Linked DNA regions of Homo sapiens. The protein of the gene in region 1 purifies or fractionates together with the protein of each later gene. This does not show direct contact. Each region holds a gene or a part of one and is shown on either strand. Other genes may lie near its edges. The genes, in order: ABLIM1 and NMT1.

Region 1 (10,230 bases):
AGCTATCACCATATTCTGGAACTCATAAAAATCATAAAAGCCTCTTTTTCTTTTTCTTTTTTTTTTTTCTTTGAGATGGAGTTTTGCTCTTGTTGCCCAGGCTGGAGTGCAGTGGCGCGATCTCGGCTCACTGCAACCTCTGCCTTCCGGTTTCAAGGGATTCTCCTGCCTTAGCCTCCCGAGTAGCTGGGATTACAGGTACCCGCCACCACGCTCGGCTAATTTTTGTATTTTTAGTAGCGATGGGGTTTCAACATGTTGGACAGGCTAGTCTTGAACTCCTGACCTCGTGATCTGCCCGTCTCAGCCTCTCAAAGTGCTGGGATTACAGGGCCTCTTTTTCTTAACTGGACAAGAATTCCTTCAAAGTTTTTGGTAATGTACTTTCAAAGCAAGCCCTCCCAAATAATGGGGTGACAATTCCCACTGGAGGTTACCTTCCCAGTGACCAGAGGCTAACTGTATCTCTTGTGTTTGGGGCAGGGTAGCAAGAATGGTGAAGGAGTTGAAACCCTACTAGGGGTCTAGGATGGTGCCTTGCTTTGTAGCTGTCATCCTACCCAAGCTGCTGTTATTTGTCGGAAGGTCACATAAATTCACACGCCAAGGATCCAGTCATGTGTGCTGAATAACATGTGCTAATATGTGTATTTTCTTCTTTCCTCCCAATGGTCAAAAATCCAATTTCTATGCAAATGCTTTAGTCAGAACATTCTTCTTTTTAACAAGTATAACACTTCTCTCTAATAGGAAGATTTGGAATCACTATTATAAATTGCACTGAATTTCTCTGGTGCAGAAGTGGTTTATCTCATCCTTACGTATTAAGACTCACTTAAGGGCTTAAAGAGGTTTATTCCAAATCTCCCAAGGACTGGCAAAAGCCACAGAACCCAAGGCAAACCTCTAGTTCACTTCCTAATGTCCCAGGAAAGAGATGGGAGTAGAGCTTCCTTGCTTGGTGCCCACAGTTCATAATGCATCAACTTCAAATGTGTGTTAACTGACCTACTCGATGTTATTTTCCAGAAGAAATGGTGCAATTGGCCACTCTTTTTATTTGGGGGTAAGTAGGTTCTCTATGGATTCTGACAGGTCAGACAAGACCTTGTAAATAATGACAAGTCCCCAGATATATGTGCAGCTTTTTCCCACACTTTCTTCAAACCTCTCCTTAGGTGTCATATTTGAGAGAAGTCTTCTCTGCCCCATATAAGTGCAGCTCTTTTATTCTGCTTTAATTTTATTCCTACTTTAATTTTTTTCACATATTAGATATTTTTGTGTATGCAAAGGAATTTCTGGGTCACATGGTAGTTCTATTTTTCTGGGTTTTTTTTTTTTTTTTTTTTTTTTTTGAGATGGTCTAGCTTTGTCACACAGGCTGGAGTGCAGTGGTACAATCTCAGCTCACTGCAACCTCAACCTTCGCCTCCCAGGCTCAAGCTATCCTCCCATCTCAGCCTCCCAAGTGGTTGGGACTACAGACGTGCACTATCATACACAGCTACTTTTTGCATTTTTTGTAGAGACGGGATTTTGTCATGTTGCCCAAGCTGTTTTTAAATGAGGCTCAAGCAATCCTCCCGCCTCAGCCTCCCAAAGTGCTGGGATTACAGGCATAAGCCACCACACCTGGCCTATTTTTAATTTCTTTAGGAGCCTCCATGCTGTTTTCCATGATGCCTACGTCAAGAATCTACATTCCTACCAACAGTGTTCAAGGGCTCCCTTTTCTCCACACCTAGGCTGATGCTCGTCATCTCCTGTCTTTTTCATAATAGCTATCTTAACAGGTATAAGTTGGTATCTTATGGTTGTTTTGATTTGCATTTCCCTGATGACTTATAACATTGAGCACCTTTTCATGTACCTGTTGGCCATTTTAATGTCATCTTTGGAGAAATATCTATTCAAGTAGATAGATGACTCTCATTTCCAGCTAACAGCGTTTCTCAAAAAGGAAGGCACCTGCCTGAGCTACCTCTGGACTACATAGGTATTCACGTCAGTGGGTCACCGGGGCACTTACTGCTGGAGAAGGTGGTTTCTTTCGGACTGGACGACATCGGCTGTGCACAGAGTTGACAAAGGCAGTCTCTCCCATTGAATGTGACTCGGTCTCCGGGTGGAAACGGGCGCCTGGAGGCAGAAAGACATCGCCCTCAAGGTTATTGCAGCAATTTCATTCCTTTTCCTTATTCCTTCTGCTTGCTGCCCTCCGGTGCCCATTTATTTCTTGGAGAAGCAGCAGCCAACATGTCTGAAATGCAGTCATAACCAAGCCAGCCAGCTGGAGACAGTCCAAACAAATAAATGTGCCTCATTTTGAGAAGAAAGGGGAATGTACTGGTTCTAAGGGCAACCAGGTAGTAAAATGGAATGATTTACCTCCATTCATTAGTGAAGGGATATTCCAGCAAGTGATCTAGCAGGGCACACAGAACAGTAAGTTTCCAAATGGAAAGTCCTTCATGAAAAAATATTTTAAATACCATGAATTCCCAGTGAAGCTTAAGGCCCTGCCCCAGGAGACCTGGCTACAGGTCAAGCAGTAAGCAGTGGGTCTTTCAGTTCCCTGGGACCGTGCCTAGACCTCTGTGATGATTATGCAGGATTAGACTTTGTGCTGGACACCTACATGGGTGAACGGAACGTTTCATGGTGCTGGAGACCCAGTCCCTTATAAACTGGGAGAAATGGGACAGGCTGTAAATATCTGTTTAAGAATTCATATTAGCTTCTTTTCAGAAAGACAATTTCTCTTCATAGTAGATATTCATCAATAGCAGCACATTTTGCAAAAATATTGCCTTCTGCATGTAGATAATCAGTTTCTTCTCCCAGGTCACCAGGCAGAGAGCCCTTTAAACAAGTCATTAATGAACAGACATATGACAGTTTCCATGCCCACTCACTTGCCCTTGGCCTATGTACCAATAATCTTCATTAAAGTGATTTTTCAAATGTGTGATGCTGCCAATTAGGAAACGTGAAACTCACAAGCTGAACATCACCACAAATCTTAGTTAGAAGCAATTACTTAAGAGCAAGTACCAGCTTTTTGACATTCATTTTTACTTCCACAGCTGCTACATTCCCTTTAAGTTGCCCCTCAGTAGCCTAACAATTGGCAATTAACTGTAATAAACAACATATAGGTAAATTTGGAGTTAACCCCACAAATGTGGCTGGCTCCAGTCATCACAGAGAGTTTTAAATTCTTACACCCTTACATTTTAGAAGTCCCGAGGAGAGGTGGTGTCCTCTCCACTTGTGATGCTGTGTCACTTTCGGCAGTACAGTGAAGGCTCAGAGAGGTGAAGTGACATGCCTGGACTGACCAGCTAGGGAGATCAAGCCATAGGCAGGTGCAGATGGCATCCACCAACTTAGAACTTGTTTTATTTTTAAGAATCAAAAATCACCCTCTGCTGGATGCCAGTAGCCCTACTGCTTCACACTCATTAGCTAAACCTGAACAAGTCTTAAATCTGTTCTGTAAGGAGGGAGTCAGGAAGTTAAGGATCCATTCAACACAACACGCACAGGTTCTTTTGCCTCCGACCAGGCCAGGAGTGGACCCAGACACAGCGTTTAAAGAGGCACTCGTGCTCCGTGGCTGACCCTGCACTTGCAGGACCCTGAGAATAAGTGCCCTTTACCTGTTGCATGCCCAGAGGCACCTCGCTTACCCCACCCAAGCCCAAGCCTTCCTTCCCATCCAAGCTTATTATTTTAGACCCAAGTCCCACACGAATCCTCTATGGGACAAGCCAGAATCCAGTTCTCAACTTGGGCTGGGCCTTCTGAAGGGTGGGTTTTGTTGTTTTGTAAATGGCCCTTTTCAGTAATTTCCTCCCTCCCTATATCCTCTGCCCATACTGGATAACTTCCTTCTTTTATTTGCATGAATGTTTATAATAGAAAGAGACCTGGATTTAGAGTTAGAAAACCTGAGTTCTAACGTTAACTTGGGAATGTCCCTTAAACCGTGAGCCTCAAAGTCACTCATAAATAGAGATATTAACTCCTGGTTCCCTTCAAAGAATTGCTAAGAGGGTGAAATTAACTTCTGTATGAATATAACTTCTCAACTAAAAAGGAGGCCCCAATTCAGACAGAATTATCGTCATTCGGCAGCAGTAGAGGCAGTAGCAGTAAGTGCTCCTTTGCTGGCTCAAATGTCCAGGGACAGGGCCATAGTTAATAAATCGTTTTTTATCATTATACCAACTTCAAAGCAATGACCTCTCAGGGTCAGGATCAGAAGGGCTCTTAGAGTTTACTGGGAACACGGCCTTCCAACCTGGCTGACTGACAACATACATGAGAACCCTCCAGAAACTACTAAATTAGCATGCAGGTTTTGGGGGAAAATAGGCTAGAAATTGATCTTTGTGGAGAGACTCCCATCTCTAGTCCACTCCCACCCATCCAGGAGATTCCAGTGATGAGCGAGGCTTGAAAAATGACTCGCATCTAGTTCACAGCTTCTCATTCTAAGGTGGAGGCAATTGTCTGGAAAAAGCTAAATCACATAGGTCTCAATTCAACCTGGGAAGTAAGACTGGGACTTGGGGCTCCATGCCAGCCCAGGACTCTTAACCAGGCTGTGTGCCACAGCCTGAAAAGGGAAAAATCAGGGCAGAACTTTGCTTTTGATTAAATACAGAAAAATATTCAGTTCATTCATCCAGAATTATTAAATTATGATTTAAAAAAATGAAATAGAGAAATGAGCTAATACATAGCTATAAAGTTATTTAAATAATTTTATTATGAATATTTTGTGTCTTATTATGATTTATCAGTATTATCTTGTTAATTAATTACACAATATTGAATCTTCCCTTCTAGAGCTTACATCTCTCTGGCTTAGAAACATACAATGCTGAAAAACAGACAACACGTCTCCTCTGAATTGGGGTTTTTAGAAAGGCATAGCAAATAGATCTCCACTTGAAAAGGCACTGGATTGCAAAATTGCCAAATTAGAATTGATCAATAAAGCAGCTGACCCTTGGTGGTGAGTCTCCTAGTTACAGGAATCAAACCTATCTTAAGTTTTATAACATGCAGACCTCAAAACACAAAAACCACAAAAAGCCCCACATTTTCCCACTCACACTTCACATAGTTTTCTTGTTCTCTGACTGATCATTTTATTATTTATTTTATTTTATTTTTTTTGAGATGGAGTCTTGCTGTGTCACCCAGATTGGAGTGCAGTGGCACGATCTCGGCTCACTGCAACCTCCGCCTCCCGGGTTCAAGCCATTCTCCTGCCTCAGCCTCCCAAGCAGCTGAGATTACAGGCACCTGCCACCTCGCCTGGCTAATTTTTTTGTATTTTTAGTAGAGACAGGGTTTCACCATGTTGGCCAGGCTGGTCTCAAACTCTTGAGCTCAGGTGATGTACCTGCCTCGGCCTCCCAAAGTGCTGGGATTATAAGGGTGAGCCACCACGCCCAGCCTGACTGATCATTTTAATCAAGCTGGTTTGCACAGTTAAGATACAACCTTGGTAGATGACAGATACATAGAGAACAGGGTTGGCAAATATTTCCCCCCAAAGATGAGATTGTAAATTTTTTAAGACTTTGCGGACCATATGGTCTCTGTCGCAATGACTCAACTCTGTTGTTGCAGCGTGGAAGCAGCTATAGGCCACACACAAGTGGGAGTGGCTGTGTTCCAATAGAACTTTATCCACAAAAACAGGTATCAGGCCTAATTCAGCCCATGGGACACAGTTTGCCACCGCCTATTATAGATGAAAGAGACCATTTTAAACACACACACATGCCTAGGAATTTATACTTCCAAATAAGCTTTATCCTTCTAAGCAGTTATGCCATTTCCCCCTGATGTTTTTATTGCTCCAAAATGTTTTGAGACCCAGAGCTGCTTTCAGAATTAGTTTCAATCTACTAAAAATCAGTCATATTACTTTGTAGAGGACATCACACATACAGTTTCCAACTAATCTACTTTTTTTACTAGGACTGATAGTACAGTAAGAAAGAAATCTAAGGATAAGAGTATGTGCTACTCAAGACAAAAGGTGTATAATCCAACCTTTAACAGCCCAAACCAGCATTTCTCTGTTGGAGGAAGGTGTAGGCTTTGGAAAGATAGGCTCACTTACTTGCAGATAGTACAAGCAAAGCAATTGGGATGGTAGGTCTTGCCCAGAGCAGTCACCACTTCGCCCTCCACGAACTCCCCACAGCCATGGCAGCGTGTCCCGTACATCCGCTGGTAGTCCAGGGTGCAGAGATACTCTCCGTTCTTTATGAAGAAGCCCCCTTGTGCCAGGTCACAGCCACACACTGTAGAGAGACAAGTTCACATCTGGTCATTATCTGCCACACTGCCGGGCAGCACTGCCTTTGAGTGAATACTGACTGGTTGCTCACCCTGTGATCTCAATGGTTTGGGGCTAGGGAGGGGATGGCTACAAAGAGCTATTTATTATTGGGCTCTGACCCTCCCTTTGGGAGCTATGCAATATCTCATACAAGTAAAATCCACTGGCTAGGTCTCAACAGCTTTTGTGATATGTCTAAAATTCTGAGATAATCAAACAGTCTTTGATAGAAAGATACCCTTCATTCAGGCTGTCTCAAATATGAGCAAAGGTGTCCCTGGCAGTGTGCTATTTAGGAAAGGTGCCCACTGCCTGCCCACACAACCACATGGTTTGGGCCAAGATTGTTAGGAGTTGAGTAATAAATTTCCATTATACCAAAGGCAGTAGCTGAAATTTCCGATAGCTGTATTTTTTCACACTCTGGAACTACTTTCCACTGCTACGAAAAATTCAGATGTTTCATTTTTTCTTTGTGCAGTAAATAGAATAAGCCAATTATTTATATATTATAGAGAGATAAAAAACAAACAGGCAAAAGAGGAAAGACCTGTTATTTGGATGCTTTATTGTGTCTGGATTTTGGCATCTCCTTCCGACTGTGCAGCTGTGGATTAGGGAGATGGTGCAAACAGGCAGTGGGAGCTTGGGCCTGGTCTACGTGTTCAGACAAGACCAGAGTAGGTCACAACAATTTGTCTGCAAATAAAGCCTAAAGCAGTCCCTGACAGTAAAGATCTCTCTCTGCCAAATGGCTGAGAAGCAACAGCCAAAGCTGGAAATCTCTGACCCTAACCTTGCTATCCCCAAGGTCAACTGATTCCAATTTATAATTCCTTAGGCAAAGAATCCAGGATTCTTCTTGATTATTTGGTATTCAGTTGGGGTGGGGACAAGGTGAGTTCAATCAGTAAATTGCTTTCCTAAGGACCTGCTCGAATGCTCCCAGGGTTCATCTGCTGAGTTCCCATGACTCCTTAATTCATCTAGATGAACTAGGGCTTCAGTAAGGTTCTGATGAAAGTCACGACTCCCCCACCTTCAGTCAGGACTCTTCACTAACTACAAGCTACGGAAGACGTTCAAGGTGATCCAAAACCCACAAACAAACTTTCCATTGTGGATTCATCAGTCTTTGTTTAGATCAACACTCCACAGCCATGACCTTCTTCTTTGCAATTTACAATTAAGTAACCCAAGATTATGGCCTGAGTCCATCATGCCTGAAACTGACCACCCTATAAATACTCCTGTGATCATATTATCTGGAAAACAGCTCATTCACCACCTGCTGCCTCCTCTCACCTGCCAACCTCTCCTCTGCCCCCACTGTTCTCCCACCTGCTTCTTCTTCCCCAGATGAGTCCTGTGGGTCAGGGGAACCCACGTGTGGATTGGCCTCATTCTGATTGCAAATTCCTTCAGCAACAATAGGCAGTCTGGGGGTAGCGGGTCACAGAACCTTAGAGTGTTTTCTTCAATATCTGTCTATGTGCAGATCTTATTTTTCTACAAGATGGCAAGGTATTTGAGGGGTGAGAGTCTTCTTTTGATTCTTCTTCAGGAACCTAATTGTATCTAATATAAAACAGGAAACACAATGTTTGAAATAAACTGAATCCTGCCTGAAACTTGGCAGGTTCCCACTGATTTCACTCCTCAGTGACATCAAGTTCTGATGACTCAGTTATTTTTCCAAACTTAGGATTTCTCAAAGCCCTGAGAAGTGACACAACAATGCATCCAGACTACTGGTAATTCCCTAAATTCTCTCCTCCAGTCAGCTATGGCTTAAAAATGCAGAGTCGTTATACAAAGATGTGGTGTCAAAAGGGTAATCTGGTGGCAATACACAAAAAATAGATTGAGATAGTTTCAAAGCTAATTCTAAATGTTTTAGAAATTATTTGTATTTACTGCTTTCTTAGGGCACCTGTCTGCAGCCTTTTCCAGATCACATGGTTTTGTGAAATTGACATATAGTATCCTTTATTAATAAAGTCCTAGTTTCTGTGAACATAACATAGCCTTAAAAAATGAATTCTTAACACTACTGAGAGATGCCAAGCTACATTCAAACTGTGCCTTATTATGATTTGATTTGGCTTTTTCCTTAAAGTAGTGCTCAAGGTGGCTTACAAACCATACCATTATTTCTGGTGGTTTATACAAGGAAACCAGTGTTTGATGTGACTCCCAGAGGCAGGTGTTCCTAAAGGCATATGCAACAAGCAGTGAGAAGGGGGGCCTATGATGCCAGTACCTAAAATATACTTAACATTATTACATTTCCTGAAAATGGACCAGCTGTCACATCATTTCAGACTCTTCCCTCTCTTGCCTCCCCAGGCTTTACTTTCCTGTTTCTCCTCCTCTGTCTACTCCTTCTCAGTCTCAGTGGCCAGGCCCCTAAATGCAGGTCACTCCTATGGGTGCCATCTCCTCCCTCTATGATGTAAGGCCTCCCTGGGAACAGATCTCATTCACTCTCACAACCTCAACTATAACTTTATGCGAGGGATGATCAAATTAATGATCTCTCTCTGTGATGTCTTCCCCAAGCTTTAGACCCTGATTTGTAGCTGTGTGCTGGGCACAGGCAGACCGCCATGCCTCTCTCAAACCCAGCATTTTCCAAACACACCCTTTCCTCACAGTTGCTCTGCCATCCCCCATAAAACCTTCTGCTGTTCTTTTTCTATTCCCTTTCTCATCAAAATGGTAGCTGTATCCATTCTCCAACTCTTACATCAACATCAACATTTTCTGTTGTTTTTTTTTTTTTTGAGATGGAGTTTCGCTCTTGCTGTCCAGGGTGGAGTGCAATGGCATGAATTCGGCTCACTACAACCTCCACCTCTCCAGTTCAAGCGATTCTCCTGCCTCAGCCTCCCAAGTAGCTGGGATTACAGGCATGTGCCACCACACCCGGCTAATTTTGTATTTTTAGTAGAGATGGGGTTTCACCATGTTGGTGAGGCTGGTGTTGAACTCGTAACCTCAGGTGATCTGCCCAACTCGGCCTCCCAAAATGCTGGGATTACAGGTATCAGCCACCACGCCCAGCCAACATCAACATCTTCAACTGGACCCAAATCCAACCCATTTCCCCAATGAGGTGTTTCTTTTTCTTTCTTTCTTTCTTTTCTTTTTTTTTTTTTTTTTGAGATGGAGTTTCACTCTTTGTTGCCCAGGCTGGAGTGCAGTGGCATGATCTCAGCTCACTGCAACCTCTGCCTCCTGGGTTCAAGCGATTCTCCTGTCTCAGCCTCCCGAGTAGCTGGGATTACAGGTCCCTGCCACCACGCCTGGCTAATTTTTGTATTTTTAGTAGAGATGGGGTTTCACCACATTGGCCAGGCTGGTCTTGAACTCCTGACCACAGGTGATCTGCCCACCTCAGCCTCCCAAAGTACTGTTATTACAGACGTGAGACACTGCTCCTGGCCCAATGAGGTGTTTCTTTGATCCATTCCCTCCTCTGCCTTCTTGCTATCACTACTCAAAACCTGGCCTTCAGCATGGCTCTGCTGTAGTAAAACAATTTTTTTTAACAACATTTGTATTGGCAGGAAAAGAAAAACAACAGGAAACAATCTAAACTTTCATTAGTAGAAAAATAGTTGAATAAATTATGCTATGTCCAGTCTATGGAGCTGGTATTAAAAAGAATGAATTTAGCCCTCTGGATTGTGGATATTGACAGCCCTCTACGTTGCAGACATTGATCTGTCTGTGATATATTGTTCAGTGAAAAGAACAAATGTCACAGAGTAAACGATTTTAAAAATCCCATTTTTAGATAAGTCATGTTTTTATGAACTAGGTAAAGTGAGTTAACATAAACAGAACCATTA
Region 2 (10,230 bases), on another chromosome or scaffold:
AGGTGGGAGGATCGTTTGAGTCCTGGAGGTCGAGGCTGTAGTGAGCCATGATCGTGCCACTGCACTCTAGCCTGGGTGACAAAGCGAGTCCCTGTCTCAAAGATTAAAAAATAAATAAATAAAAATGAAAGGCCTTCTTAGCAGAAGTGTTTTAGTCTGTGTAACAACTGTAAGAGCCGCAGATGAACTTTTGATCCCCCACTCGAGATCATGTCGTTCTTCTTTTTAAAGTCACCCCTTTCCCACTCATGTCAACGGAAGCAGTATCCTTTTCTGTCTTTGGTCAGTGGAATGCAGTGTGGCCACTCTGTTTTAAAAAGTCACTATCAAAGGGAGGATGTGCACTCACCTGGTTTCCATGGGTCCCAGAGAGAAGCTTCCCCTCTCTTTTTCCTCTCCTTGGCCTTTGTTTGGTTTAATGTTTTCCGCATCTCAGACATTCTCATTTCTCCGAAGTCCTTCACAGTTGCACCGCATTGCTTAGTTTTGGGTCTCTGATGTTTGATGTCATGGAGAGAATTTTGAGGGAAGAGTGTGCAGAAAGAAACCCATTGAAAGCTCAGGGTTTTCTTTAAACTTCCAGATTCTTTTAAAGCAAGTTCGAAGTGTCATCCTTAGTCATTTATTGGTTCATGTTGGCCTTGAGAGAATCAGCTGCATTCTTGCTGTGCTCTGCAGAGCAGCCTTCCACCCCTGCTCAGCAGGAGGTACTCAAAGGCCATTGTAAGGGAGAAGGCAGGCTGCTCCCCACAGAGCAGGACAAGCAGAGGCCATGATGCTGGCACCACACCGAGGACAGCACAGGAGCCTTGGGCTGCTTCTTGGCATCGAGGGCACTCCACAGTGGGAGTCTAGTAAAAGTGGCTGCTCCCTTTTCAGTGTTTCCTGTAGCTCTACTTTTTCACACCCACCCTGCCCCACATAGTCCACCTGCAGCCTGGCTGATTCCTAATTATCCTTGAGGTCTTGTCGTTAGATATTTCCTCTGAGAGGTCTTTCCTGACACACACACACACACACACACACACACACACACACACACACACACACACGTCCCATAGCACCCTGTACTTCATTCTTACTGGCCCTCACCATGCCGGGTGGCATGTGCATCCTTGCTCATCTCTTTGGTGTCCATGATGGTGAGGACCTGTGTCTGTTTCATTCGCCAGCCCCTGCCACAGAACTGGCACATTCTAGGATTCAGTGAACACTTGGTGAAGGAGTGAGTGAATGGAAGTGCCTGTTGCGTGTAGGACCTAGTAGCCAGCCTAAATGAGAAGATTTAGCCTTGAGGTTATTTTAGTACAATAGGGAAGACCATCAGTATTCTTGGCCATGGAAATAATTCAGGGGGAAAAAAAGAAGGTTCTGAAGTGTATAGGAAAAGGTATAAATTCAATACAAGTTGGGAAATTAGCACCTAGATAAGACTAGAGGGTCTGGCCCTCAGTTTTGTAGGCTCAAAAATGTTTTTTTAATATACATAGCTGTCAGTTGGAAGCGGATTGACTTAAATTCACAAGAGCTACTTTATGAATAATCAAATGGTGGGTTTTGGCTGGGCGCCGTGGCTCATGCTATAATCCCAGCATTTTGGGAGGCCAAGGCAGGAGGATCACTTGAGTCTAGGAGTTTGAGACCAGCCTGGGCAACAGTGAGACCTCATCTCTATGAAAAATAAAATTAGCCAGGCGTAGTGGCGCATGCCTATAGTCCCAACCACTCGAGAGGCTGAGATGGGAGGATCGTTTGGGCCTAGGAGGTCGAGGCTGTAGTGAACCAAGGTTACGCCACTGCATTCCAGCCTGGGCAACAGAGCAAGACCCCATCTCGCCAGTCATGAGTTTCCTAACTAGGGAAGAAAAATATGACCTCTCTCCCAAGCAAACCTGTTGGGAAGCCTGATTACCAACAGAGCAGGCTGCTTCCCTGTTGTGTGTCCCTGCACTTTCCAGATCCTGACCTGCAGCACGTGGATAATGACTCATTTATTTACTATTTCCCCAGAAGATGGTATGTCTCATGAGGACAGGGACTTGGTCCTTTTTCCTGCTGTACACTAGGGGCTGGCATGGTCACTGAGTCACTGGTGCACGGTTGGTGCTCAGTAATGTGTCTGATGGAAGAGGGTGAGATGATCAGTGCCAGCGGTGGTGTCGTGTGCTGCAGCCTGATGCAGCCCTTTCCACCACACTTGCCCCACAGATTATCATTCTGGGAAGGTCTAGAGCTTCCTGTTACATGTTAGAATGAAATGTTTGGACTTTGGGAGGCCGAGGCGGGTGGATCACTTGAGGCCAGGGGTTTGAAACCAGCCTGGCCAACATGGTGAAACTCCATCTCTACTGAAAAAAAAAAAACAAAACACCAAAATTAGCCAGCGTGGTGGCGGACACCTGTAATTCCAGCCACTCGGGAGTCTGAGGCAGGAGAATTGCTTGAACCAGGGAGGTGAAGGTTGCAGTGAGCCAAGATCGCACCACTGTACTCCAACCTGGGCGACAGAATGAGACTGTCTCAAAAAAAAAAAAAAGAAAAGAAAAGAAAAAAAAAATATTTGGGATCAGGAGTCTGAAAGTCAGTAAAAGCATGAATTGAGTGCCTAGTCTATACAGAGCCCTTTGCTAGGAACACTGTTACTGGGTTGGTCCCTTTTGAAGACTCCATTTTCCAAAATGCACTAAACATTGCATTCTTCCCAGTGTAAACATGAGTGAGCCCATTGTAGAACCGAAATCATCCCAAGGGCCAGAATTCAGTGGTGAATCTCTCAGCATATATGAGTCCGATTGAGCTCTGGATAGGAATGAGGGCTGTGTCTTTGGAGCACTCCCCACATGCTCCCACAGAGGAGGGGCCTATCCTGCTCAGGGAGGGGATGTTGTGTCAGGGTGACTTCCCGGCAGCACTATGTAGACTTGGTGATTCAGCCCAAAGGCACTTGCAGGACTCTAAACACTGAGGGCCTGAGTTGGCAGTAGCAGTTAACTGGCTCACGCTGCTGAAAGCCAAGGCTGGCAGGGCCACGATTGAGCCTGGCGCCTAGAAGCCATCATCTGGTTCAGAAATGGGCCCAGTACATTGTTGTTGCTGTTGACACAAAAGCAGCCTTGTTGTGACTCCTTACAAACCCATCCAGACTGATGGGCCTGGGCCAGGGCCCTGACAGCACTCTTTACACCAACCAGGAGGCAGGAAGCCAAATTACTAAAGATAAATGTTTGTCATTCAGTGACCCAAGGGAGATTTAAATGGATTTCCAAAACACGAACCACCTTGGATCCCAGTGATTGTCCTGAGGTTTTGCCATGAATTGGCCCTCAGTTAGGGGCTAAGGGTAGCTGGAAAGACGGTTTGCAGTTGCCAAGCACAGAATGTTCTTCAGATAGAGGGCTCCTAGGGACAGGAGGAATTTGCTCTGGTTGAGTTTTGAACTGAGCCCTTTACTGCCCCGAGGGGGCAAAGGGTGAGGCTCACAGCTGTGCTCTTCTTTCAGGCGAAGTGGTGAACACCCATGGCCCCGTGGAGCCTGACAAGGACAATATCCGCCAGGAGCCCTACACCCTGCCCCAGGGCTTCACCTGGGATGCTTTGGACCTGGGCGATCGTGGTGTGGTGAGTGGGCCCTCAGAAGGTTACACCTGCGGGTAGGAGCCACTTTCACAGTAAGCCCTGCAGTCTCACCTAGACTACGTTTACTCGAGCCCTAGAGAGCTGAGCCAAGGAGGTCTGAACAGACTCCCGTCTGTAACTTCCTGGGGCATGGCCAAGACTCCACATAAATAGCTCTTAGCTTTTCTGGCAGGTTGGAAGTTAACCTCTGTAGGTCCCCGATGTGGATACCTGTTTTTCATTTATTCTTTTTTGTTCATTCATTTCCTCATTTTCTTTCTAGTCTGTCTCCTGACTGGAGCAGCTGGGGCTGCTAAATGAGGCCCTGTCCTCCCCTTTCCACCCCGGCCACCCAGAGCCCCTTGTTTTGACCTGAGGGATTTATTTCCCTTATAAAGAATGATGAAAATGTCGCCGGGCGTGGTGGCTCACACCTGTAATCCCACCGTTTTGGGAGGCTGAGGCAGGCGGATCATGAGGTCAGGAGTTTGAGACCAGTCTGACCAACATAATAAAACCCCATTTCTACTAAAAATACAAAAAATTAGCCAGGTGTGGTGGTGTACGCCTGTATCCCAGCTACTCAGGAGGCTGAGGCAGGAGAATCTCGTGAACCTGGGAGGGGGATGTTGTAGTGAACTGAGATCTCACCATTGCACTCCAGCCCAGGTGACAGTGCGAGACTCTTTGTCTCAAAAAAAAAAAAAAGTCAACAGAATTTTTTTTTTTTTTGAGATGGAGTCTCGCTCTGTTGCCCAGGCTGGAGTGCAGTGACACCATCTCAGTTCACTGCAGTCTCTGCCTCCTGGGTTCAAGCGATTCTCCTGCCTCAGCCTCCCGAGTAGCTGGGATTACAGGTGAGTGCCACCACGCCCAGCTAATTTTTATATTTTTAGAAAAGATGGTGTTTCACCATGTTGGCCAGGCTGGTTTCGAACTCCTGACCTCAGGTGATCTGCCCATCTTGGCCTCCCAAAGTGCTGGGATTACAGGCAATGAGCCACTAGGCCTGGCTTTTTTTTTTTTTTTTGAGACAGAGTCTGGTTCTGTTGCCCAGGCTGGAGTGCAGTGGCGCGATCTTGGCTTACCCCAACCTCCACCTTCCAGGTTCAAGTGATTCTCCTGCCTCAGCCTCCCAGGTAGCTGAGATTACAACCATCTGTCACCATGCATGGATAATTTTTGTATTTTTAGTAGAGATGGGGTTTCACTGTGTTGGCCAGTCTGGTCTCGAACTCCTGACCTCATGATCCACCCATCTCGGCCTCCCAAAGTGCTGGGATTACAGGCATGAGCCACTGCGCCCAGTCTTTTTTTTTTTTTTGAGATGGAGTCTTGCTCTGTTGCTCAGACTGGAGTGCAATGGCACAATCTTGGCTCACTGCAACGTCCACCTCCTGTGTTCAAGCAATTCTCCTGCCTCAGCCTCCCCAGTGGCTGGGATTACAGGTGTCTGTCACCACGCCAGGCTAATTTTTTTATTTTTTAGTAGAGATGGGGTTTCACCACATTGGCCAGGCTGGTCTTAAACTTCTGACCTCAGGTGATCCGCCCACCTCAGCCTCCCAAAGTGCTGGGATTACAGGCTTGAGCCACCACACCGGGCCAACAGAATTTTTTAATACCAAAGTTGGGCCAGCAGATGGAGATAGCTGAGAAGGCAGAAAAAGGCCTTTGTGGTTGGGTGTGGTGGCTCACACCTGTAATTCCAACAATTTGGGAGTCTAAGGTGGGAAGATCGATTGAGCCCAGGAGTTCAAAATCAATCAGCCGGGTCAATATAGTGAGACTGCCCCCGCTACAAAAGAAAAAAATTTAATAATTAGCCGGACATGGTAGTATGCCCCAGTAGTCTCAGCTACCCAGGAGGCTGAAGTAGGAGGATCGCTTGAAACCAGGAGTTGGAGGCTGCAGTGAGCCATGATCACACCAGTGCACTCCAGCCTGGGTAACAGAGTGAGACTCTATCTTGAAAAGAAAGGAAAAAAGGCCTTTGTTTGGGCCAGATGGTAAAAAATCAGACAAGGTGGGAAACAGCAGTGACTCTCCGTGGTAATTCCTTGACTAGCTTCGAGAGTCGTCCCTCTATAGCACTTCACAGAAGTTGAGACCAGTGGCTCTCCATTGTTGATGGCGCAGAATGATGAAGTGGTTGGTTAGTTAGGTGGCATTCTCGGTCTGCCACTCTACCACGTGATGGCTCAGTTTTCTACTATAACTAGGGTGTTTGCTCCAAGAGTTCCTACCATGCCAGGGGGCAGAAGGATTTGTGAGACTCCACGTCGTTTTTGGTAGTTTGCTTCATCCTTCTGAAAAGCCTAGAGCCCCAGGGTATTGGAGTTGGTCTACTACCTGGCAGAATACCTCCAAGTGAGCTGCTTATTTCTTTACAGCTAAAAGAACTGTACACCCTCCTGAATGAGAACTATGTGGAAGATGATGACAACATGTTCCGATTTGATTATTCCCCGGAGTTTCTTTTGTGGTAAGTTGTGGGGGCTTTCTTGAGGTTCTTGAGAGGAAGGCATAGAGCAGATCCACCAGAGGGCACCAGAGTTTTCATCCCTGCCAGGGGCCAACCTTTGAATGGCAAATTAGTGTGTCATTTTTGAGTTCCTGCATCTGAAGGACACTTGCTTTCATTAGCACTTAGAATTGCAGCCTTGTTTAAGACAATTGACTGGGTGAGGGAGACCTTCGTAGAGCTAGTACCCAGGGAAGAGGTATTCATTGTCTGGTGACTTTATATAAGAAAGGAACGGGCATGAGACCTACTAAGACTGAAAGAAAAGAAGGCACATTTTCTATCTAGTTCCTGAGCATGCTCAGTTGTATAGCCTTGCCTGGCTGAGCCATCCACCTGCCCAGGCCACGTTTAATATCCAGGAAGAGAGAGGCATGGGCCGAAATGGAGAGGGACTACCTGAAAGGGAAGGAAGAATTTGTACCAGAAAGAGGGAGACAGGACACCAGAGCTCCAGGGTTGCCACAGTCAGCTCTCAACCATGGGACCCACTGGCCTCCGAACCAAAGATGCCAGTACCTTGGTTCAAGCTGTCAAAGTGAACACAGAAATTGGATCAGGCATGAAATCCTCAGTATGATAACCTTGGGTTGGATGAGTAACTAGGCCAAATGGGATGAGCAGCCAGAAATGGTGATGGCTCGATTCTGTGTGTCCAGGAGGGCTTGGCCCTAAAGAGAATCCAGCTATTAACCCTCAGGGAGGTGGTAGCACCAGGTCCGAACCAAATTTGGCTGTGGAGCCCAAGCGGCTTGTCCAGCCTGCCGGCAAGCAGCACAACCACCCCAGCCTCTCTTTTCCAGGGCTCTCCGGCCACCCGGCTGGCTCCCCCAGTGGCACTGTGGGGTTCGAGTGGTCTCAAGTCGGAAATTGGTTGGGTTCATTAGCGCCATCCCAGCAAACATCCATATCTATGACACGTAAGCACCTGCACCTACCCCCACCCCCCACAACACCGCCATCCTGCTTGGTCTGGGAGAGAGTAGAAAAAGGCTGCACAATGTGCCCCATGAAAGGAAGAGGGAAGGTCTCAGGAAGGGAGGATGCCCAGGTGCGGGGACTGCAGATTCATCCTAGGAACCACCTGTTCTGCTCAGAGTCCCAGCCAGCTCCCTTGTTTGTGGCCCAGGTTGGAAGGAGCCCACCCTGAGGCCTGGTGTGCCTGCTCAGCAGAGGCTTGTTTTTGTTTTTGTTTATTATTTTTTACATTTTATAGAGGCAAGGTCTTGCTATGTTGCCCACGCTAGTCTCAAACTCCTGAGCTCAAGTGATCCACTCACCTCTGCCTCCCAAGAGTGTTGGGAATATAGACGTGAGCCATTGTGCCTGGCCAGAGGCTTTTCTTAGTCTCACTCTGTTGCCCGGGCTGGAGTGCAGTGGTGCGATCTTGGTTCACTGCAAGCTCCACCTCCAGGGTTCAAACGATTCTCCTGCCTCAGCCTCCCAAGTAGCTGGGATTACAGGCATGCGCCACCACACCTGGCTAATCAGAGGCTCATTTTTGAACGCCTGTACCAGTCACACATGGAAGCACTTGAACAGCAGCAGAAATGGGCCAGAGCGAGTGTGACCCAGATTCAGATAGTCCTTGGGGCCTGTGATCTCTGCTCTTCATTTTCCCTGGAAGTGTTGAAACCATCTGCCTGCCACAGTCTTCAGGGCTTATTACCAGCTGTGTTCTTGAGGGAATCAGAACCCTTGAAACCCTAGAATTGCCTTGACCTGCCCCGTGGGTTCCCTGTGCTGCTTCCCTGCATGCTAAAGGTGGGATTCCCCAGCCAACTCCTAGGGACTCATCAGGGAGATGCTGGTGGTACCTTCAAATAAAGGTGTTTGCTTGGGTCCCACCTTCCTTTGGAAATAGATTCTGTTGAAGTGAGGCAGGCTCCTTGCCTGGTGGAGTGTGGTGGGGAGTCCCAGTACTGAGTGCAGGTGGCAGCTAAAAGTACACCCGTGCTGCAGACCTGGTCCTTCTAGGTGTGGCTGCACGTGCTTGATGGGATCACCATTCCCTTCCCTGTTAAAAACCTTGTCACCTGGATTTTTCCCCCTCTTAGAGAGAAGAAGATGGTAGAGATCAACTTCCTGTGTGTCCACAAGAAGCTGCGTTCCAAGAGGGTTGCTCCAGTTCTGATCCGAGAGATCACCAGGCGGGTTCACCTGGAGGGCATCTTCCAAGCAGTTTACACTGCCGGGGTGGTACTACCAAAGCCCGTTGGCACCTGCAGGTAAAACTGTCTTCCTGTAAGGCCCCAAAAATGCGGGTGTCTGCACTGTAGTTGAGGAGCATGTGCCACTGTGAGTCACAGCTCCGCCCTTAGCATCCCACCTCTGGCGTATCTGGTAAGGCGGGCACTTGGTGCCTGCAGGAGCCAGATGGGGAGCATGGAGAGGGCGGGAGGGTTGTAGGGATGGCAGATTGGCAAGTCCCTGCCTTGTCTGGAGGGCTCTTGGTGTCTGCTGGCTGCTGCCATTTGGAGATGGTGGGGGGCGGTACTGGTGGTTTGTTTTTGTTTTTAGGGATGAGCCCAAATCTGGATTTTTATGGGAAATGTCCTAAAGTTTTAAATGGTTGGCTCAAATTGTTTTGAATATTGTGTGCACCAAATAGAGCAAGTCAGCTATGTGATCTAAGGGCAACCTCTGCCTTAGAAAGTTGTTTAAAACAATTGAATAATCTCTCCTTAGAGAACTTTAAAAGTAAAAACACCAGGTGTGAAAGCAGAAGGGGAGGAGGGAGGAGGGTGAGTGCCTCTGCCATCATCTTCTGGGCATGACTACAGTCCTTTTCCGTTGACTTGATTCTAGGAGTGAGGATTGGTCTCCCCAGACAACCGCTGTAGCAAAGGAATAGTTTTTGAAATTGAGCAAGAAAAATAGGGAGAAAGAAAATCCAGGAGGAGCTTTGGCAGCACTCACTGTGGGGAGGGGGAGGCTGGAGAGCAGGGTGACACCACTGACTCCGGAGGCACCTGATGTGTCTCTCACGCCACCTGCTGGCCAGCTGGGGTCTCCCTGCCATTGTCCTTGTAATAGGGATTGGCCAGAACCCTGAGGACAGGACATTTGTGTCCCCACAGGTATTGGCATCGGTCCCTAAACCCACGGAAGCTGATTGAAGTGAAGTTCTCCCACCTGAGCAGAAATATGACCATGCAGCGCACCATGAAGCTCTACCGACTGCCAGAGGCCAGTGCTGCCCCGGGTGGTGGGCAGGGGGCAGAGAGAGGGCAAGGAGAGCCTGGCTGTCAGCAGGAGAGAAGGGCTCTGGGTGGAGAGGGAGCTTTCTCCTACTGGAAAAGCGAACCAGCCCATAGTCTTCAGATTTCCTGGACTTTCTATTTCTGTTATCTGAAGCAGGATTTTATTTTAGTTTAACTTTCTCAGTTCCTCTGAGTCTGTGCCTGGACTAGCTTCTCTGCCATCTGTTGAAAGGCTCAGAGAACACCTATTCTCTGTAATTTTAGCCTAAGTAAAGCATAAATAGAATGATGAATCCACTTAGTGAACCTTCATACACACGGCAGCGCGTTCCAAAGCCCAGCGCAGATGCACTACAGGGTCTGTGACGCCCCTCTGCCGGGTCAGGTAAAGGGTGACCTGAGCTTGTGAGGGATCCCCGATTTCTAATCCCAATTTCCCCACCCAGATTTGGCTGAAGGACTGGGCAACCTTAAAGTGAGCTGCTTTTCTGTTCTGGGTCTCAGTTTTCCTAGTTTCCCAAAGAAACAAATGCTCCAACTGTGGCTGGCTTCAGGTAGGGATTCTTTTTTTTTTGTTTTGAGACAGGGTCTCATTCTGTTGCCCAGGCTGGAGTGCAGTGGCACAGTCACAGCTCACTGCAGCCTCGACCTCCCAGACTCAACTGATTCTCCCACCTCAGCCTCCCAAGTAGCTGGGACTACAGGCGTGTGCCGCCATGCCCGGCCAATTTTTGTTTTTATAGAAACGGGGTTTTGCTGCCAGGCGCAGTGGCTCACGCCTGTAATCCCAGCACTTTGGGAGGCTGAGGTGGGCAGATCACGAGATCAGGAGATCAAGACCATCCTGGCTAACACGGTGAAACCCCGTCTCTAGTAAAAATATAAAAA

What was found.
Region 2: the proteins of ABLIM1 (region 1) and NMT1 purify together in Homo sapiens (affinity purification with mass spectrometry; 3 studies listed by BioGRID and IntAct, with this or other methods). This does not show direct contact.

What each region holds. Positions count from the first base shown.
Region 1 is NC_000010.11:114,569,265-114,579,494, forward strand, and holds part of ABLIM1 (actin-binding LIM protein 1), read right to left. Parts: intron 6,336-10,230; coding exon 6,152-6,335; intron 2,143-6,151; coding exon 2,033-2,142; intron 1-2,032. UniProt on the Homo sapiens protein: May act as scaffold protein. May play a role in the development of the retina. Has been suggested to play a role in axon guidance.
Region 2 is NC_000017.11:45,090,186-45,100,415, forward strand, and holds part of NMT1 (glycylpeptide N-tetradecanoyltransferase 1), read left to right. Parts: intron 1-3,499; coding exon 3,500-3,618; intron 3,619-6,008; coding exon 6,009-6,100; intron 6,101-6,942; coding exon 6,943-7,059; intron 7,060-8,196; coding exon 8,197-8,367; intron 8,368-9,219; coding exon 9,220-9,328; intron 9,329-10,230.